2 separate regions of the Homo sapiens genome follow, and region 1 is linked to region 2. Evidence: fine-mapped expression QTL. Tissue or cell type: whole blood. Region 2 holds a variant in brackets; the other region holds the start of a gene. All regions are shown on one strand. Distances are between the middles of the regions.

Region 1 (2,611 bases), 46 kb after region 2:
GCCACCACAGCCGGCTAATTTTGGAAATGTTTGTAGGGGCCAGGCACAATGTGTCACGCCTGCACTCTCAGCACTTCCGGAGGCCGAGTTGGGAGGATCCCTTGAACCTAGGAGTTCGAGACCAGTCTAGATAACATGGCGAAAAACCGTCTCTACCAAAAAACAAAAACACACAAAAACCCCAAACCAACAAAAATTAGCCTGGAATGGGCTAATGTCCGACACTAAAATGTCCGGGCGTGGTGGCACGCACCTGTAGTCTCAGCTACTTGCTAGGCTGAGGTGGGAGGATCAACTGAGCCCAGGAGGTGGAGATTGCAGTGAGCAGAGATCGTGCCATTGCACTCCTGCCTGGACGACAGAGTGAGACCCTATCTTAATAAAATAAAATATAGAGACTAGGTTTCGTTTCTATTTTTTATGAGACGGAGTCTCTCCCTGTTGCCCAGGCTGGAGTGCAATGGCGCGATCTCTGCTCACTGCAACCTCTGCCGCCCAGGTTCAGGCGATTCTCCTGCCTCAGCCTCCCGAGTAGCTGGGACTACAGGCGCCTGCCACCGTGCCCGGCTGTTTTGTATTTTTAGTAGAGACAGGGTTTCACCATCTTGGCCAGGCTGGTCTTGAACTCCTGACCTCGTGATCCACCCGCCTTGGGCTCCGAAAGTGCTGGGATTACAGGCGTGAGTCACCGCACCCGGCTTGTAAACTCTTAAATTTTGTATAGACACAATCATACAAGTTGTGGGAGTCAAAATGAAGGAAACGGGTGGTTACATGGTAGGTATATTTAATGCCATACATCTTAAGAAATTGGAGGTGGGAAAGGGAGCCCTGGAGAGGGAGACAAAGGAAATAGTTGAAAAGGAATGCAAACAAGAAAAGGAGGAATTGAAAGCTGAAGTGAAAACCAGGGACAAGAAAAGCTCCGCTCCTTCCTTCACTGCCCACTCGAATGAATGAATCCTGTTTGGTTTCCTGAATCTTCCTTCTGCTGGCCACTCCGCTTGGTCCATCACTTCTTTCAGCTTGCCCTTATCCTAAACAGCTTTCTTTAACCCAGTCATAATCTTAATTTCCTGTTCCTTCTCTCTCCCGTCCCACCCACAAAAAAGCCCTCCTCTTTGTCATTTTGGGGGATTTTTCACTTAAGATGTGAGCCGCGCGCTGCGGGTGCGGCGAGGCTGGCCCTATAAAAATGTTTCTGTTTCTGACATCCTCGTGCAGATACGCAGACGTCTCTACCTACAGGATCATGGGCTAGCGGGTGCTCAATCACAGCAGCCAGCGTTGGAAGGCGCCTTGCAAAGTATTAACAGCACTATCAAACTTTAATTGCGTAGTTCGGAACCAGATATGTGAGGAAACTGGGTTCTCCACGATCGGCCACCTCGCCCAATCTCACAGGATAGTTACAGGCTGAGTTCGGCAGCGGGACCCAGTTTCCTCCTGAGAGAGGTCCAGGTAAAGGTTTACGGTTGCCACAGGTCAGTCCTGACGAAAACCGCAAGCTGCGCCAAATCTCGCGCAGCGGGGCGGGAGGGCGGGTGGGGAATGTAAGGTATCGCGAGATGACAGGATTTTCCCGCGAAGGAGAAGCGCGCTTTTTTCCCTGGCGGGGGATTTGGCTAGAAGGCTGGGCCGGCAGCGGTTGTGAGGAGTTAGCTCGCGGCATTGCAGGCTCTGAGAGGAGGGGACCCGGTTCCCGGGTGAGTGTCCAGGCATGCCAGCGGAACGGCCCGCGGGCAGCGGCGGTGAGTGAGGAAAACCTTTTGGGCGCGGGTGGCAGCCTGCGGGGCTGAGGTGGGCAAGCATGGAGGCTGCGGCGGAGTTTCGGGGAGGGAGCCGACCCCGGGCAGGGACTGAGGAGGAAAGGAGGGTTGGGAAACTGCAACGGTGAGTGGAGGACACCCCGGAATCGCACGTATTAGCATGCCGGTGAAGATTTCACATAGGCAACTGCATTTTCCCGAGCATCCCGAGTTGTAAACTGTGGTCCAGGCGACTTGTAGACATTGTGAAGACTTACGGTGTCTTCTGAGAGGTGATGCTGGCGTCCCCTCGGTCTTCAGCTTTTGCTCCAGTGCATCTCGGGTGGGAGAAAGGCTGTTTCTTGTTGGAGTTGAGTAGTTGGTAATTTTTTTAAAACTGCAATTTGAAAGCTTTCTCCCCCGTCAGGCTCGGAGGCTCCAGCAATGGTTGAACAACTGGACACTGCTGTGATTACCCCGGCCATGCTAGAAGAGGAAGAACAGCTTGAAGCTGCTGGACTAGAGAGAGAGCGGAAGATGCTGGAAAAGGTAATTTAGGCATCAGGTTCGTCGTCGTGAAAGCCTGTGGTAACCTCGGCTTTAACCCGGAGGTGTGGTTTGTGTTCTTTGCTTTCCTATTTAGTGGGCTTTTTAATAACTGAAAGAAAACAGCTTTATTACTTGTCTTTTTTGTATGTTTACAGATATTGCCTTTGAGAATCCTTTCGCAAGTGCTTTGAATGGTGTGTTTCTATGAGATGTAGTCTTGGTAGTCCCATCACTTTTAAATGAGCATTTCAGATTGCTTGTTTAGCCATGAAAAGTCTTTCAAAGTCCATAGTGAGTTTTTTCGTTTGTCATCC
Region 2 (2,765 bases):
CTGGGACTACAGGCGCCTGCCACCGCGCCTGGCTAATTTTTTTTTTTTTTGTATTTTTAGTGGAGATGGGGTTTCACCGTGGTGTCTGCTAAATCTTACCTATCCTTTGGGACCCAACTGAAATGCTAATTGATTTATGAAACTTTTAATGTCTTTGGTTACTGTGTTTTCTTTTTTTTTTTTTTTTTCTGAGACGGAGTCTCGCTCTGTTGCCCAGGCTAGAGTGCAGTGGCACAATCTCGGCTCACTGCAAGCTCCGCCTCCCGGGTTCATGCCATTCTCCCACCTCAGCCTCCCGAGTAGCTGGGACTACAGGCACTCGCCACCATGCCCTGCTAATTTTTTGTATTTTTAGTAGAGACGGGGTTTCACCATTCACAGGATGGTCTCGATCTCCTGACCTTGTGATCTGCCTGCCTCGGCCTCCCCAAGTGCTGAGATTACAGGCGTGAGCCACCGTGCCCGGCCTAGTTACTGTATTTTCTTAATGCTAACATACCATCAATTGTAAGACGCACTATTGATGTAATAGCAGTTATTTGGAAAGAGAATATTAAATATATAAATGTATTAGAAGATGCACTTATTGTTAAAATGATTTTTAAAGTGTTTATCTCATAATCAAGGAAATATGTATGATCTTTCCCTTATGTAAATGTCCCATCATCATACTTTGAGACTAATATACTTATCTTGCCTTTGCATTTATTTATTCATTTTTAAGTTATTTTGCCAGCATCTTTTTAATGATAAATAATAATTGTATATATTTATATGGTACAGGGTGATTTGTTTTTTTGTTTTTGTTTTTGTTTTGTTTTGAGACAGAGTCTCCCTCTGTCACCCAGGCTGGAGTGCAGTGGCGCGATCTCAGCTCACTGCAACCTCTACCTCCTGGATTCAGACGATTCTTATGCCTTAGTCTCCCTAGTAGCAGGGACTACAGGCATCTGCCACCATACCCGGCTAATTGTTTTGTATATTTAGTAGAAACAGGGCTTCACCATATTGGCCAGGCTAGTCTCAAACTCCTGGCCTCAAGTGATCAGCCTGCCTTGACTTCCCAAAGTGCTGGAATTATAGGTGTGAGCCACTGCACCCTACCGTGATGTGTTTTTTGAGGGTTTTTTTTTTTCAAGACGAGGTCTCACTCTGTTGCCCAGGCTGGGGTGTAGTGGCGAGATCAAGGCTCACCGCAACCCCGACCTCCCTGGGCTCAGGTGATCCTCCTGCCTCAGCCTCCTGAGTAGCTGGGACTACAGGTATGTGCTAACACGTCCAGCTAAGTTTTGTATTTTTTTATAGATATGGGGTCTCACTGTGTTGCCCAGGCTGGTCTCGAACTTTTGGGTTCAAGCAATCTGCCTGCCTTGGCCTCTCAAAGTGCTAGGATTACAGGTGTGAGCCACCTGCCTGGTGCAATGTG[T/A]TGTTTTGGTATATGTTTACATTATGGAATGATTAAATCAAGCTAATTAACACATCCATCAGCTCACGTATTTCTCAGTATTTTGTGGTAAAACATTTAAAATCTGCTCATTTAGCAATTTTGAAACATACAGTTCATTATTATTTATTATAGTCACCATTCTATGTAATAGGTCACTAACACTTATTTCTTCTAACGGAAGTTTGTACCCTTTGATCAACATCTCACCTTTCTCCATTCACTTTACTCCCCGCTCCCCGGCCATAACCACCATTCTACCCCCTACTTTTATGAGATTGACTTTTTTGGATTCCACATATAAGTGAGGTTATGTGTTGATTTTTCTGTGCCTGGTTTATTTCACGTGGCACAATATCCTACAGGTTCATCTGTGTTGTTGCAAATGACAGAATTTCTTTCTTATTGCCTTTTTACATAACATTTTAAAATATGCCTTATCTTCCCTCTCGACTGGAGGGTTGGGGATATCTTCTGCAATGCCTACTGTAGTTTGTACATTGGGAATTTGTTGAATATTGGCACAGTGTGACATATTATCTGAGGCACTTTACATAAGTAATTGCATTTGAGTCTTAGAACTTTTATAAGGTGTATGTATTTTTACTCCCATTTATCTTATAAGGAAACTCAAGGTCAGAGAGGTTAAGTGATTTGCCCAAGGTTATACATTTAATTAATGGTTAAACTAGATTGGATCTCAGATCTATCTGACTTTAAAGCCGACAGTTTTTTTTAGCAGACTTTACTGCTTCTCAAAAACTAGGGCCTTCCCACTGTAGATTCTTGGTTGTTTTGTTTTTGGTGCTGAATTGGTGATACATTTTTATGTCCCTTTTATCCTGTTTTTTAAATAATTGACTGCATATTTCTGATTCTCTCATTGACATTTATAAAACGCAGTTCCCTTTAGATTACTGTTGCCCCTTTGGGATCCTATACATCTTGTAGGCTGTTGTTGCCTGCAAGCATGAACGCAAAGAAAAGAATGCATTACATACTTAATTCTCTATAGTCCTAAAAATGATTTGATCACTTGGCCATAGACTAAAGATAATCCATCATGCAACTAGTATTTTTGGTATAAAAAGTAACTTTCTCCTTTTTTCTCCTCCTTTAATTCTAGGCGTAGTACAAGAAGAGTTCGAGAATTGTGGTGGCAGGGATTGCCCCCTAGTGTCCGTGGGAAAGTTTGGAGTCTAGCTGTAGGAAATGAACTAAATATCACTCCTGGTTTGTATTCTACGTTCAGTTATTCCCACATGTACAAATAGCCATCTACAGAGTTACATAGCAGATTAGTAGAGTGACCATTAAAATA

The links. PIP is the estimated chance that this variant, and not a neighbour inherited with it, causes the effect.
Region 1: it holds the start of HELLS, and the variant in region 2 is fine-mapped to the expression of HELLS in whole blood (INTERVAL, PIP above 0.99).

Annotation. Positions count from the first base shown.
Region 1 is chr10:94,544,202-94,546,812 of GRCh38, forward strand. HELLS (helicase, lymphoid specific) reads left to right here and starts at 1,587. Exons shown (of 22, transcript NM_018063.5): 1 at 1,587-1,751; 2 at 2,176-2,297. The coding sequence starts at 1,721. RefSeq lists enhancers at 643-1,267, 681-730, 1,268-1,892, 1,893-2,516 and a silencer at 1,441-1,520.
Region 2 is chr10:94,497,651-94,500,415 of GRCh38, forward strand. TBC1D12 (TBC1 domain family member 12) reads left to right here. Exons shown (of 13, transcript NM_015188.2): 6 at 2,571-2,677. Among named protein-coding and RNA genes, the nearest start is that of HELLS, 47 kb to the right of the region's middle. The variant T/A (reference allele first, on the strand shown) is at 1,427.